Regions from separate parts of the Homo sapiens genome. Here region 2 is linked to region 1. The links come from fine-mapping of genetic effects on gene expression. Tissue or cell type: regulatory T cells. Region 1 holds a variant in brackets; the other region holds the start of a gene. All regions are shown on one strand. Distances are between the middles of the regions.

What was found. PIP is the estimated chance that this variant, and not a neighbour inherited with it, causes the effect.
Region 2: it holds the start of RCCD1, and the variant in region 1 is fine-mapped to the expression of RCCD1 in regulatory T cells (Schmiedel 2018, PIP 0.95).

What each region holds. Positions count from the first base shown.
Region 1 is chr15:91,037,939-91,045,655 of GRCh38, reverse strand. No RefSeq gene overlaps it. Among named protein-coding and RNA genes, the nearest start is that of VPS33B-DT, 19 kb to the right of the region's middle. RefSeq lists an enhancer at 1,838-2,339. The variant G/TG (reference allele first, on the strand shown) is at 2,845.
Region 2 is chr15:90,950,798-90,958,514 of GRCh38, reverse strand. It overlaps RCCD1 (RCC1 domain containing 1), which reads right to left and starts at 3,631. Exons shown (of 8, transcript NM_001017919.2): 1 at 3,567-3,631; 2 at 1,615-1,903; 3 at 1,012-1,402; 4 at 790-911. The coding sequence starts at 1,780. UNC45A (unc-45 myosin chaperone A) reads right to left here. Exons shown (of 20, transcript NM_018671.5): 18 at 5,469-5,586; 19 at 5,205-5,360; 20 at 4,422-5,056. The coding sequence ends at 4,799. It overlaps RCCD1-AS1 (RCCD1 and UNC45A antisense RNA 1), which reads left to right and starts at 4,022. Exons shown (of 2, transcript NR_170325.1): 1 at 4,022-4,180; 2 at 5,310-6,277. RefSeq lists silencers at 1,505-1,554, 1,675-1,904, 3,135-3,264 and enhancers at 3,485-3,594, 3,395-3,949, 4,774-5,274.

The sequences.
Region 1 (7,717 bases):
GACCTGTTTTTTCCTCTAAAATCTGGCTTCTTACCACTCTTGGACACTCAGAGCCTGACATGGTTGGCTCCACCCCTCACCTCCTCACCACCTAGGAAGCCTCTTTTGAGTTGCAGCCACTCAGGCCTTCTTTCAACTCCTCAAACTCTTCATGCCTCCTCTGGCCACACAGTCTTTGCAGATGCAAAGTCTTTGCCCAAAACACTCCTCCCTTCCTCTCCTGCCTGGTTACTTCTGAGCTTGGACGTTTCTGTCTCAGGAAGCTCTTCCTTGGCCTGAGTTTTTACAGACAACCTTGTGCTCTGCATTCCATTTGCAATTTTACATTAATTTATGCAACTGTTTGGTTTCCATCTCTCTCTCCCAAGATTCTTAGCACCACGTGGCAGGAACATGTGTCAGTTGTAGCCCCAGTGTCCTCATGGTGTGTGACGCATGGCTCCAGCCTGGGGTGACACAGCTGAAAGGGGTGGAGTGGTGCTGGCCTGAGTTCCTCCACCATCTTCCTTGGTCCTCCTGCTCTCCAAACCCAGGGGCAGGTCCCCTGTCTCTTACCTTTGTCTCTGTCCACTCTGAACTCTGGGATCCCAGGAGTTGGTTCTCTATTCACCTGTGATCAACATGTTCCTCTCTGACTCTCATCTCCTCAACTGTAGTTTGGAGAGAATAGGAACCACCTCACATGGTTGTGGTGACAATTAAATGAGTTAATATGTTAAGGGCTTATCATGGTGCCTGGCACGTAGTAAGCACTCAATTAATGTTATCTGTTAGTATTGCTGTTGCTGTTATTGTTACTACAAAGCAGGAACAAACAACAGAGTATGGCTGACAATGTAGGGGCACGCGGTAATGCAGTGGTATATGTTATGAGTTGAACGGTGGCCCCCAAAAAGATATGTCCATTTCCTAACCCCGATACCCTGTGAATCTGCCATTATTGTAGATGTAATCAAGGATCTCAAGATGAGATCATCTGAGTGGGGCCTGAATCCAGTAAGTGTCTTTATAGGAGACAGAAAAAAAGACCCCTGAAGACAGAGGCAGAGGTGGGAGTGATGCAGCTGTGAGCCAAGGAATGTCTGAGGCCTGCACGAACTGGAAGAGGCAAGGAGGGACTCTGCCATAGAGCATTTCGAGGAAACGTGGCCCTACCAGCACCTTGATGTCAGACTTCTGGCCTCTAGAACTGTGAGCAAATTTCTGGCATTTTAAGCCAACCAGTTGTTTCAATTTGTTCCTGCAGCCACAGGAAAGCCACCTTCAGAGCAAAATGTTGCTGGCTAAAAATATCCCTGGACCAGGACAGTTGACCTATTAGCCGCACCTTAGGGAAGGGGGGAAGGGCAGGGGGTAGTGGCCCAGCACTGCCTTGTGTTGGTGCTACAGGGGAGCTCAGGCCTGAGGACCTTCTGGAGGCCAGGCGCTGGAGGTGCCCTCTTCACTGTGGAGGCCTCAGCAAGTTCCTTCCCCTCTGTAGGCCTCACCCCCACCCCCCACTTGGTGTTTTGCGTGTCTCTGTGAGTCTCAGGGATACAACACCCCCATGTGACCAAATCCTCTGAGGTCAGGTCTGGCAAAGCCAGGAGCAGCCTCTGGGGTGAAGCAGATGCTCACCTGCCGCTCCCTGCGCTGCCCAGGACTTCCCGGCCCAGACCTCCGGAGCTAACGGCTAACAGCTAATGTAGCCAGAAAATGAGCCCTCTCACTCTGCGTTCCCCTCTCCCCAGATAGACTTGAGGAGAATGGGATCTAGTGGCTTCCTTTCTGTGGGGTATTTCCAAAGCTTCCCTGCGGTCAGCTGAGGGGCACCAGGCAGAAGCATGTGTCTGGGCAACAGGTCCCTGTCTGTTGCCAGGCAAGCCTAAGGGGGTCCATGGAGGGCTTTGTGTCCAGGACCTCTGGGTGGCAACACCAGCAGGGCCAGCAGTTTCTGAAGGGGCTGCCCTCCCACACCTCCTCATTCCCACTCTAACCACATGTATGTGGTTATGGGCATGTGTGTGAGCAGGGCTGGGGAGGCAGGAGCAGCTGCTTGAGTGACACCAAGAACAACTTTGTGAACATGGACACGCCAGCTGAAAGGAAACCCAGGTTCATTAAGTCCAGTACTCTCATTATACAGCCAGAAAACTGAGGCCTGGAGAGAGGAGGGACTAAGGTTATACCTTGATCACCAGCTAAGCTGAGCCGGGAATCCAGGCTCCCTGTCCGCCCCTGGGAAGTGTGCGTTTACAATGCGCATGCTTGGGATAAGGCTGCCCTATGTGTAGGTTGAAGGGTTGCCGTGAGCCTATCCATGCAACAGTCCGTGCCTGACAGCGCTGGGTGTTCATTTGGGTTCACCCTGTGGGGACTATGTTTAACCTGATGGTTAAACCTTGAGAGCTGAGGAGGAGGAGGAGGAAGAGGAACAGGAGGGGTGGGCGAGGAGGGAGTTCGCAGCTGAGCAGGATCAGGAGAGGACCCTGGAGGACTGTTCTTCAGTAGATGGGCAAGCTCTGTTCTCTCGTGGGGACTTTCAGTTCTTCCCCTTGGGAAATTATTCTAGGCTCCTAACATGCCTCAGACCACAGATCTAAGACATACCTACAAGAGCACTCCAAGGAGAGTAGCGCCAACTCCCTCCCACCCCGGTGAGCACCGCCGGGTCAGCACTGTGGGGCGAGTGCTCAGAGCCCCAGACCAGATGAAGGACCAGCATCTGCTGGACGATGGACTCAAGTGTGCAGAATACAGTGCTAGGCCCTACAAGGAGTTCAGTAAAGGGAGTAAAGAAAACATAATTTACCATTTCTTTTTAATTTTTTTATTTTCTTTTTTTTTCTTTTTTTTTTTTTTTTT[G/TG]AGAAGAAGCCTTGCTCTGTCACCCAGGCTGCAGTGCGGTGGCATGATCTCGGCTCAGGGCAACCTCCACCTCCTCAGTTCAAGCAATTCTGCCTCAGCCTCCCGAGTAGCTGGGATTACAGGTGCGCACCATGCCTGGCTAATTTTTGTATTTTTCATAGAGATGCAGTTTCACCATGTTGGCCAGGCTGGTCTCGAACTCCTGACCTTGGCCTCCCAAAGTGCTGGGATTACAGGCATGAACCACTGCACCCAGCATAATTTACCATTTCAATGCGTTGAGACTCCAACCCCGTGGGAAACTGCCTGATATGAAAGCCTTTTCAGAAAGCTGGTAAATGTATACAGAGCTTCATGGCCTAAGTAATTTTCTGATAAGGGGTGAAAACACAGCGAGTGGTTTGGGTGAGGAAGGAGGAGGCAGGCTTGAAGCAGGACCTTCAGGAAGGGGAGGGGGAATGCCTGACCTTAAAGAGAGGGAGGGTTGTGCCTGGAAAGTACAGTGGTGAGTGCCAGGGGCCCAGGCCCTGGAGCCCCCAGCCTGCTCCACAGTCTGTGATCTCCCTTGGAGCTGCGAAAGCCTTTACTGGTCTCTACTGCGAGCCAGTTTTTTAAAAGGGACACATTGTCATTGTACATATTGTATGTACAAATTGTACCTACTGTATGTACAATTTGTACCTACTGTATGTACAAATTGTACATACAATATGTACAAAGTGTACATATTGTATGTACAAAGTGTACATAGGGTACAATTTGATGTTTCAATACAGATATGCTTCGTAATGATCAAATCAGGGAGGTAGCACATCCATCCCCTTATGCATGGGTCATTTCTTATAGGCAATGAAGTACTATTCAGCCATAAAAAGGACAAAATCCTGTCATCTGGAACCACATGGATGAACCTGGAGGACACCATGTTAAGTGAAATAAGCCAGGCACACATAGACAAATAGCCCATGATCTCACTCATATGTGGAGTCTTTAAAAAAAGTGAACTCAGGGCCGGGCGAGGTGGCTCACACCTGTAATCCCAGCACTTTGGGAGGCCGAGACAGGAGGATCACTTGAGGTCAGGAGCTCAAGACCAGCCTGGCCAACATGGCGAAACAGCATCTCTACTAAAAATACAAAATTAGCTGGGCGTGGTGGCGTGCACCTGTAATCCCAGCTACTCAGGAGGCTGAGGCGGGAGAATCACTTGAACCCGGAGGCAGAAATTGCAGTGAGCTGAGATCATGCCACTGCACTCCAGCCTGGGCAACAGACCCCATCTCAAAAAAAATAAATAAATAAAAATAATTTTTAAAATGTGAAGTCAGGAACCACCGGAGCATTCAGTGGTACCCCGTGGAGTAAAGCAGCTGTCACAGACCCTCCCCTGTGGCTTGACCTGTGCTGCCTCCCCTATTCCAGGATGTTTTTCCAGAAACAACTCCTTTTATCATTTGGTTCTGTCTTGTTTCTTGGGATGCTGTCCTGGAGTGGATTCTCAGTCACTCTCTACACTGCGTGTAGCTCCCCTCTTAGACTGGGTGAAGGAGGCACAGAGAGAGAAGGAAAGAAGCAAAACAGACTCCCAGCAGTGAGACCTTTTTCTATACAGGTTTTATGTATTTGAGTCCGGGAGCTTTCTTTTTTAATTGTGGTGAAATACATGAAACATAAAACTTACCACTTCAACCATTTTCAAGTGTATGATTCAGCGGCATTAAGTACACTCACAGTGCTGTGTAACCATCACCACTAATCACTGCAGAACCTCTTCATCCCTCCAAAAGAAACCCCGTACCCACGAAGCAGTCACTTCCAATTCCGCACCTTCCCCAGGCGCCGGTTGCCACTCATCTGCTTTCTGTCTCCGTGGATTTGCCTGTGTGTCAAGATGTTTTGATCTTTATGTTCCACTTAAAATGCAAATAACCATAGGAGAACCCACAATCTACACTTTCAATTCCATTAATTTCGACAATACCCACCCTTACCCACCTCCATAGTTTAGAAATTACTATTATTATCGTTTTAGAGACACGGTCTTGCTCTGTCACCCAGGCTGGACTGCAGTGGCTCAATCACAGCTCACTGCAGCCTCGAAGTCCTGGGCTCAAACAATCCCCCTGCCTCAGCCTCCCAAGTAGCTGAGACTACAGATGTGTACCACCACGCCTGGCTAATTTTTTGATGTTTTATAGAGACAGGGTCTCAAACTGCTGCCCAGGCTTGTCTCAAGCTCCTGGTCTCAAACAATCCTCCCACTTCAGCCTCTAAAAGTGTTTGGATTACAGGCATGAGCCAATGAGCCCAGCTAGAAATGATGGAATCCCTATGTGTTATGGGGAAAACACTAGCGTGGAAGTTCAGAGACCAGGGTTCTAGCTCATTCTGTCCAAAATTATGTGCTCTTTTGTGGATGAGGGTCCCTGACTCGCTTTAGGCCTTAACATCCCCATCCTGAGGCATGGGAGGTGGACTTGGCTAATCAATTCCAGGGCCCTCTGCGGCTCTGACCCTCTAATGCCATAGCAGCAGTCCCCTGACCTGGCAGAGCACAGGGTGGGTGGGACCTGCAGGACTGGGTGCCAGAGGAAGCCAGGCCTGGGGATGGGGGCAGCACTGGGGAGGGCTCAGACTTGACCTGCCTCCCCCACCACTAGGCCCGGGGCCAGCCCTGTCCACATGAGCTTCCTGGCTGGTTCAAAGCCCCAGGCAGACTCTGCAGGTGGGATGTGGGAGTCCCCATCATAATGCCTGCTCTGGGGTGAGCCTCCTGGGGGCCTCAAGCAGAGGCCTTCCTGGGCAGGCTGAGGCAGGACAGGGCAGAGCAGGCCTGGGGGCACAGGAAGGAAGGGACAGAGGTTGGGACAGGGCAGCTGCAGAGTGGGGTGCAAGATCCTCAACCCAGAGGCTCCCTAGGCCCCACTTGCCCCAGCTCTTGAAAGCCTGGTTCTGAGCTCTGCCAGGACTGGGGCTCAGCACTGCCCATGGAAACAGGCATGGCAGCGAAGAAAATCATAACCAAATATTTGTAGTCACCTCTCTCCTCCCTTCTGGAAAGGGAGGGTCCCTGGTTTGTGGGCTCTTGGCCTCCTGGACATTATTCTGTAGTGAAGGGAGAAAGGTTGAGATGCAGAGTTGGAGAAACTAACAGAGGCCAAACTGGTCCATTTGAGGAAAGATGGGGGATCCCAGGAGGGGAGGAGGGGACACCCTGGGGAACCGGGGGCCTTCTCAGGTGGTCCAAGTAGGGGAGGGCAGGACACAGAAAGTCAGAACATGGTTTTGAGTTTTGGAGACAAGAGAAAAGAGGGAGTGATTTGGACAACTGGAGAAGATCAGGCTGGGGAGAGAAATGTTTAGAGATTTGGAAGATAGTGTGTCGTGCGATGTATTGTGAAAACCCCTTCTTCATATCCGTAAAAAACCACCACTGATGATGCGTGATACAATTCAGTGCTTTTGCAGACGGACTGGTGCCTTTTTAAAATAATAAGAATGCATTGGCTTGGCTCCATCTGAATTAGTAGAGACAGACATCTTGAGCAGGTTTTATCAGTGTTCCATTAGCTAAATATTGGGTTTCCTATTTTGTGGCTTGGCTTAAACCACTTTGTAGGCCCTTCTGCACTGGAAGGCACCTCAAAAATCACCTCTTTGGCCTGCAGCTCCATGTCCCCAAACTCTTGGCTTTCCTAAATGAGTGGCCTCATTCAGAAGATAATACAGCATCCCTCATCTGAAAATCAAAATCCAAAACTGTTTGAGTGCCGACATGATGTTCGAAGGCCAGGTTCAAAGGAAATGCTCATTGGAGCATTTTCGATTTCAGATTTTCGAATTCCAAAATCTGAAAAAATCCGAAATCCAAAATACTTCTGTAATTGTAACCTGTAATAGCCATTGGGTCCTGACCTTCCAGCTGAGGCAGCCAGCAGTCAACAGAGGCTCACCATGCACCCATCCTGCCCCTCACCCTCCCACGGGCTTGTGCCTCACCCCCCAGCCTCCCTTGCATCTGCTGGGAAGGGGACACAATGCTTCTGCCCTGCCTTCTTGGATCTCAGACCACTGTGACAATTGCAGGATTCCAGCCAGGGAAAGTGCTACAGGTAGAGGTACTTAGTACTCTCCATAGAAAAGGTTCCAGCAATGGCACAGCAGCCCCGGAAGGGTCTGTGACAGTCTCCACTCCTCCAGCTCTGGTCCCTGCCTCTTAGGGAGCTTCTCAGCACTGCCCTCAGAGTCGGAGGGGGAGGTCCAAACCTCAGACTGAGGTACCTGCTTCTCCTCCTCCCCCATGACCTCCCTGTGGCCTCTGACCCCGCTGTGAAATGAGGGTGGTAATGTCTCCTTCAGTGGGCTGTTGGGAGGTCAGAGAGAATGGATACAAAGTGCTGCACACAAAACCCAGCACTGGGAGGTGCCCCATCCATGACACCGTGAATCCCTGTCCACAATGCAGTGCATGAGAAATTTCATCCTAAAGTCCTTGATTTTAAATGCAACACTTGAGTTTCTGAATTCAAGGTCCCTTTCCTGGGCAGTCAGCTGTGCCTCAGTGCTCTGGTTCTATGTGAAGTCAGGGGATTGGGATGCAGAGAGACACCTCGTCCTCAGTCATCCTTCCACCTTGATCACCACTGAGATATCCATCTTTTCTAGCCATTGTTTCTGTTCTGTGGCAGGCCTGGGATCACCCAGACACACCACACTGTTGCTGCGGGTGGCAGGAAATGTCATGGGAGAGGGTCAGGGTCCCCCTGGTGCCCACCATCTCCTCCCTCCCTCCTTCCCCTCTACTACTTGCTCCCCAGCAGCAGTGAAGTTTGGAGCTGCTGCTGGCTACAATGATGGGGAAGGGCAGGGAGGA
Region 2 (7,717 bases), 87 kb after region 1:
CCAGGACTACAGGCGCACACCACTGCACCCAGCTAATTTTTGTATTTTTTTTTAGAGACGGGGTTTCACCATGTTGGTCAGGCTGATCTCGAACTCCTGACCTCGTGATCCACTCACCTCGGCCTCCCAAAGTGCTGGGATTACAGGCATGAGCCACTACGCCCGGCCCCCTGGCATTGGTAATTTTTTAAGCTTCCAGGTGATCTACGTAGCAGCCAGAATGAGAGCCCCAGACACAGACAAAGATCATCTGTTCCCAGCCTCACCCTCTCTGCATGGGCTCTAACAGCCTAGGAAGGAGCTACACCTGGATCACCAAGTGAAACTCCTCACTCTGGCCAGCTGTGGCACCACCACAGGGACACACTCATCACCATCCTGGTGCCTGGTGGGCACCCCAGTGTCCACCCTGTGCCACACATCATGGCCCCCTAGGCAACTGCAGCGTTTCTGCGTTTTCCTTGGCTCAGCTGCCCCCTCACACTCCATACTCCCTCGGCAGCACTGTTAAGAGACAGTCCTGGCTGGGAGCAGGTGGGGAGAGGAGGGGAGGGGCAGTGAGACCAGTAACAGAGAAGCTAGGAACAAATGCCAGAGTCCAGGCGTGAGTGGGCCATGGTGCAGGCAGAGGAGGCCGAGGGTGAGAGGCATTTAGGAGTCATAACTGACTGGGCGATGGATGGATGAATTTGGAAGGAGGCCTGGGTAGGCCCCCACCCAAACTGGAAAACGAGGAGGAAGGTTTGCACAAGATCATGAGCTCGTCTGGAGAAGCACTAAGTCACTCACCACTCACACACACAGAATGCCAGCCCCCCGCGGCCACCTCAGCCATGACTAGGCCCTGCAACGCCTCCAACAGCCGTGGCTCCAGCTCTGCCTCCAGGGTCCCATGGCCCAGCTGTCCATGCCTGAGCAAGGGAGACCGTCGTCAGCTACAGTCGCATTAAGGGGTCCCGCTCCGCTTGCTTCTCCAATCAGCAGCCCTCACCTGCCCCCGCCTCCGCTCACCTGCCCCCGCCCCAGGAGAACACCTGGCCAGCAGCGTCCAGCAGCAACGCGTGCTCGGCGCCCAGCTCCAGCTGGCGTGCCCGCAGCTCCGGAGCCAGAGGCCGGTAGAAGGGCGCCCGCGGGCTCACGTAGGCACGGGCGCAGGGCAGCAGGGGTAGCCTCCCAGCCTGGGCCTCACCGGCCGGATCGTCTTCCCCTTCGGCCTCGGGCACCACATTCTGGGCCCACAATGGCTCCCCACGCAGCGCCGATTCGGCCGCCCAGACCTGCAGTAACGCCTCCGGCCCCGGCCCGGCGCGCAGCACCGCGAGGAGCCCCTCCGAGGCCCACGCGTCCTTGCAGCGGCCCGCCGCGCCGCTGGCTGAGCCCGACAGCTCCAAGCGGCCTCCACCTGCGGGGCGGATTGGAGCAGGGTGGCCAGAATGGAGGCGGCGGGGATGGGGGGAGCGGGGTGTTCCTGGGAAGGGGTCGAATTGGGGACCAACCCAGAATGTGGGGCTGGCGGCCTGAACGGGGGAGACAAACTGGACTGGCCACAGCGGTGCGGGGAGGCGACTGGGGAGCGCGGCTGGAATAAGTGGGGACGGGGCGGGGAGTGCTCACGGGTCACGAAAGCGGTGTAGCTCCAGCTCGCGCTCACGCGGCAGATGTCGACGCCCGCCCGCAGCGGACTGGGGCTGTGCACCTGGCGCCCGCGTCCGGAGCCCAGCTCCTGCCCGAAGCCGCAGAAACCGAAGCCGAACCAGGCCCCCGGCCGCTCCTCCGCCATGCCCGAGCAGCGCCCTCTGCCGGCCGCCGCCTGGCTGCGGCGGGCCCGGGGGGATTCTTGCGAAGAGCCCGCTAGTGGGACACTGGCAAGTCTCTGGCCTTCCAGGGGCTGGAGCTGCCTTATCTGTAAAATGGAGAAACTATCATTCTCCCGACCACAAAGGCAGAGTCCGTGCCACGAAGGTTCGCTGAGCAGGCGCCCTGACTAATGCCCTACCGGATTTACAAAGATGCTCAAATATTTAGAGGCACTTTCCCTGTCCTCCCTTTTGGCTCAAGCTCAGCGTGCCACAAAGTGGGTACGAAGTGGCCTGTCCTTTAGGCATTGGACTAGGATCCGAGCGCCCCCGACACCCCCACCCCGTCCCGCAGCTTCCCAGCATCTGGCACTTTATCCCATGTAATCTTGGGAACCAAAATGGTCGTTTTACAGAGGAGATTCTGAGACAAAGTAACCCTTACACACTCATACAGCCAGACAGAGAGGGGCAGAGCGCTGAAATCAGGTCCCACCAACTCCACACACAGTGCTCTGCCCCTCTCCCCACAGCGGAACGCAGAAGAGCGTTTGGGAGGCAGTGCCTCTGCAACTCAGCGGGGCCTTGGGACCGCAGCCAATCCACCTGAGTCCAACTGCGTTTCTTCAGTTTACAAAGGGAGGTGGGGGCGGTGCTGTTTGAACCTTCCTCACAGAATTGTAATAAATGCAAATAAAGGGTTTGGTGCGAGTACATGCCATGATAAACACACAGTATTAGCTTACTGAATCCAGTATTTAGTGTTGACAAAAAAATTATCCCTGGACATCTTACTGGTTTTGAGAAACTTATACAGACAGAATTTCAACTGTACCTTATCTAGCCATTTATTCGTCCAGCGAGCATTTACTGAGCGCTCCTCCTCTGCCAGTGAGGACAGCTGTCTGCTCCCAAGGAGCTAACCGTTAAATGGGGAGACAAACAGTCTGGTGGTTACAACAGCAACGCCAACTTCAAGCAGATTCGGCTGGAGCGGGTTTGTTTTTTTTTTTTTTTAATATAATAGAGACAGGGGTCTCGCTATGCTGCCCAGGCTGGTCTCAAATTCCTGGGCTCGAGTGATCCGCCCGCCTCGGCCTCCCAAAGCGTTGGGATTACAGGCGTGAGCCGCTGCACCCGGGCTGAAGCAGAATTGCATGGGCATTTTCAGGCCTCTTAAGTCAGATCCTGGGTCTCTCCTGAGACCCCAGTTCCTGGGCTCCTAACCCCTTCCGTGTCCTCTCCCAACCCAAGGGGGCCTCTGACCTTGATCTTGACCCTATGCCCTCTACCCTCTCGGGCAGGTCCTTCTGGTGGGCAGCCTTGGAGGAAACGCCGAGGCGCAGAGCGGCCGCCTCCGGAAAGGCCTCCCGCCCAGCGGGCGCCGACAGCCACGGGGAGAAAAGGTTTGAAGGGCGCGCGGCGCGAGGCGGCCAATCACCAGCAAGGGCGGTGACGTCGCCGCCCGGGGCGCGGCGGCCGCAGCCCTGTTCAACTCCCCTTGAGGGCCTCTCCGGTCCCGAGGCCTACGCCGGGGCCCTGCGGCCCGGTCTGTGAAATGGGCTGAAACCTCCGAGGGGCGTTGGACCAAGGCCCTGGAGGAAACCGGGGGCGTTGGACCAAGGCAGAGGTTGGGCCAGGTGGTCCCGCCCCTGCAGGAACCCGTGGGGCTGGAGCTCGGATTAGAACCACAGAGAGGACATTCATTAAGACTTGAGCTAAAGGTTTGGCGAGGAGTGACGCCCAAGACGGGCGGACCCCGCCACCCACCTCAGTCCCGGGACCGCGGCAGCTCAAAACCCGACACGCGCCGGACTCATGCCCCAACAGGAAGCAGCTTTTACCTTCCACGGATTGGCTCAGGACCCGTCACGTGCCTCTGTCGAGCCAACGAGCCTCACGCTGGGCTTAGCCCTCCTCGAACGTGCTGGGGTGGTGGGCGGGGCCCAAGCCGCCCTTCAACCAGGCTCAGCTGGCCACCAACCCCAACCCCCGCCCCAGCGCCCTCAGCGGAGGCCACAGAGGACTCCCAATATAAAGACAAACGTACTGAAGGCCCAGCATATGGGAGTCTCTACCCTAAACGACTTATTTCTTGGGATAGTTTAATATTTTTTGAGATAGGGTCTCGCTGTGTCGCCCAGGCGACACTTTGGGAGGCTGCGCTCTGGGCTCACTGCAACCTTCGCCTACCGAGTAGCTGGGATTACAGGTGCATGCCGCCACACTCTGCTCTTTTTTTTTTTTTTTTTTTTTTTTTGGTATTTTTATAGAGAAAGAGTTTTGCTTGTTGCCCAGGCTGGTCTCGAACCCCTGACTTCAAGTGATCCACCTGCCTCAGCCTCCCAAAGCGCTGGGATTACAAGCTTGAGGCACCGCACCTGGTGAGTTTCTTATTGATTAGCTTCCTAGGCTTACCCTTTGTCCCTCCAGTAGGATTAAGAAGCAACTCAGTGGGCCCTGGTTGGGGAATCCATTGGATTCCTTCCATGGAGGTGGGTCTGCCACTGTGAAGCTCCGTTGCACACTCACCCACGCCCAGCTCACACCCATACTCACCCACACTCACCCACTCAGAGACTCCCACTCACAGCAGCCCTCCCTGCCCAAGGACAGGGCACACAGTGGAGTTCTACACACTTTTATTGGAGGGGCAGGCCTGATAGCAGGCTCACAGCTGGTGAGGCTGCTGATGTGTGCGCCCTTCCAGATGCCCCAGGATCCACAGGCTGTGTTGGGATGCACCTTCCCCATTCCCAGCTGACTACAGTAGTACAGAAAAAGGGCCCCTCTGAGTGAGGCTGCAGGCAGTGCTGGCCAAGCAGGGCTGTGTGACTGAACGTGGCCGCTGACTCAGAACAGAGGACATCCTAGGGCAGCAAGCGAGGATGGGCAAGAGTATTGGGCATGCCAGCCACCACCAGCCAAAGCTGCTTCCGTCCTTACTCTCCGTGCCACAATAGGTAGCGTGTGCATGAGCCTTGGGCCCAGGGACAACCCCCTCACTCTCCATCTTGGTTGGGTTGGATAAGCCCATATTCCACTGCTTTGTCCAGGCAGGCTGCAGCAGCCCTTGTGACAGGGCTGTGGTCACCCTTAGCTAGCACTGACAAGATCTCCATCATCTCACTCTCCATCAGGGTGCTGGCAATCTCCCTCGAGGCCTCCACCATGTTCAGCACCACCACAGCACCCCGGTGCTGCAGCTCCTGGTTGGAGCTCAGAAGCAGGGCCTGCAGGATCTCCAGCCAGTGTGTGGTCTGTGAGAAAAACAGGGTAGATATGACCCCTGGGCAACAGGCTCAACCTTGGCAAGGGACACACCCACACACCCTAGGACTGCCCCCTTCAGCTGCTGCTGGGAGTTCCTGGTCCGTCCCTCCTCCCCCACTGAGAAGAGGCACTGACCACTTGGGGAATGCGGCTGCAGAGCGTGGGCCGCATGGAGGTAAGCATGGCCAAGCCCCCGGCAGCTGCCCGCTGTAGCAGCTCATCATCCTCTCCACTGTACAGCACCAGCAGCTTCAGTCGGTCATTGCCCTGGGCTTCGAAGAGGTCCTGCACCTGTGGCCAGATGTGAGGAGTGGACCAAGTCAGTTGGGTGTAAAGCCCAGCCAGGGCACAGGTACCTCTGCATCCCCGCCTGTCATGAGCACCCAGACCAACCCTCACCTCCTTGCTCATGGCCAAGTTACACATGCACTCCGTGGCTGCCCGGCGGATCATCTCATGCTCCTCAAACATGTAGCCTTCTATCATGGGCACAGCCTTCTCCTTCAGGATCTTCTGCCTGCAGGGCCACAGGAGGAAGCAGCAGGGATACGGTTTGGATGTTTTCCCTTCTAACCCTCATGTTGAACTATAATCCCCAATGTTGGAGGTAGGGCCTGGTGGGAGGTGACTGGGTCATGGGATGGGTCCCTCATGGCTTGGTGCTATCCTCGTGATAGTAAGTTCTCGTGAGATCTGGTTATTTAAAAGTGCGTGGCATCTCGGCCGGGCGTGGAGGCTCACGCCTGTAATCCCAGCACTCTGGAAGGCCGAGGCAGGCAGATGACTTGAGGTCAAGAGTTCGAGACCAGCCTGGCCAACATGGTGAAACCTTGTCTCTACTAAAAAGACAAAAAAAAATTAGCTGGGTATGCTGGTGCGCGCCTGTAGTCCCAGCTACTCAGGGAGGCTGAGGCAGGAGAAGCGATTGAACCCAGGAGGTGAAGGTTGCAGTGAGCCAAGATTGCGCCACTGCACTCCAGCCTGGGCAACAGAGGGAGACTCCATTTCAAAAAAAAAAAAAGTGTGTGGCACCTCCCCCGACTGTCTCTTGCTCCTACTTTCACCATGTGATGTGCCTGCTCCTGCTTTGCCTTCTACTATGAGTAAAAGCTCTCTGAGGCCTCCCCAGAAGCTGAGCAAATGCCAATGCCATGCTTACACAGCCTGTAGAGCCAGGAAGCAATTAAATCTCTTTTCTTTATAAATTACCCAGTCTCAGGTATTCCTTTACAGCAATGCAAGAACAGACTAACACCGGCAGCATCATCAGAGTTTCTACATCTGCTCCACCCCTGCACCCACACCCTCATGCAATCAAGTCCTGGGCTGAGGATTTCCCTTGGCAATGTCCAAGGACCCTCTTGCACCAGGTATGAACTACAGTGCTTCTTAGCCTTCTAACCAGGCCTAGGAAATAGCATAGGATTGTGGGAAATGCTCAAAATTAGGATGTAGAAGACCAGGGTGGTCGTGATGGTGAGGCTAACACCTAACATTTGAGGGTTTTTGTTTCTGTGTTTTTTTGAGGCAGGATCTCACTCTGTCACCTAGGCTGGAGTAAAGTGGCATGATCACAGCTCACTGCTGTAGCCTTGACCCCCCCAGGCTCAAGTGATCCTCCTGCCTCAGCCTCTCGAGTAGCTGGGACTACAGGTGCACGCCACCACACCTTGCAAATTTTTTTTCCAACTGTTAAGTTCAGGGGTACATGTGCAGGACGTGCAGGTTTGTTACACAGGTAACCATGTGCCGTTGTGGTTTACCGCACAGATCATCCCATCACCCAGGTATTAAGCCCAGCATGCATTAGCTATTCTTCCTGATATTCTCTTTAATTTCTTTTTTAAATAGGGACGAGGTATTGCTACACTGCTCAGGCTGGCCTGAACTTCTGGGCTCCAGTGATCCTCCTGCCTCATCCTCCCAAATTGCCAGGATTACAGGTGTGAGCCACCACGCCCGGCCTCATTTGAGTATTTACCCTGACCAGGCACCTGGATCATCTTACTTAATTCTCACCATGGCCCTATACTAAAGGTGCAAGTGTGATCATCATCACTACTGTTTTGCAGAATAGGAAACGGGCTAAGTAATGAGTAATATGTTCAAAGTCACAGTTAGTAATAAAACTAAAACATGCTGGCCAGCTGCAGTGGCTCACACCTGTAATCCCAGCACTTTGGGAGGCTGAGGTGGGCGGATCACGAGGTCAGGAGATCTAGACCAGCCTGACCAACATGGTAAAGCGCCATCTCTACAAAAATACAAAAATTAGCCAGGCGCGGTAGCACGTGCCTATAATCCCAGCTACTCAGGAGGCTGAGGCAGGAGAATCGCTTGAACCTGGGAGGCAGAGGTTGCGGTGAGCTGAGATCATGCCACTGCCCTCTAGGCTGGGTGACAGAGCAAGACTCCGTCTCAAAGAAAAAAAAAAACTAAAATATACTGATATGGCACAATGCTAGGGGCCAGGTACCCATGTAGTAAGTACTTTTAGGTGTATTTTCTCATTTTATTCTCCTCATCACTATGCCATGAGGTAGGTACTATAATCATCCCATTTCACAGAGGGAGAAACTGAGACAGAGCAGTTAAGTAACTTGCTTGAGGTTGCCCATTTGCAATCAGGGAAGCGAGGCAGTCTGACT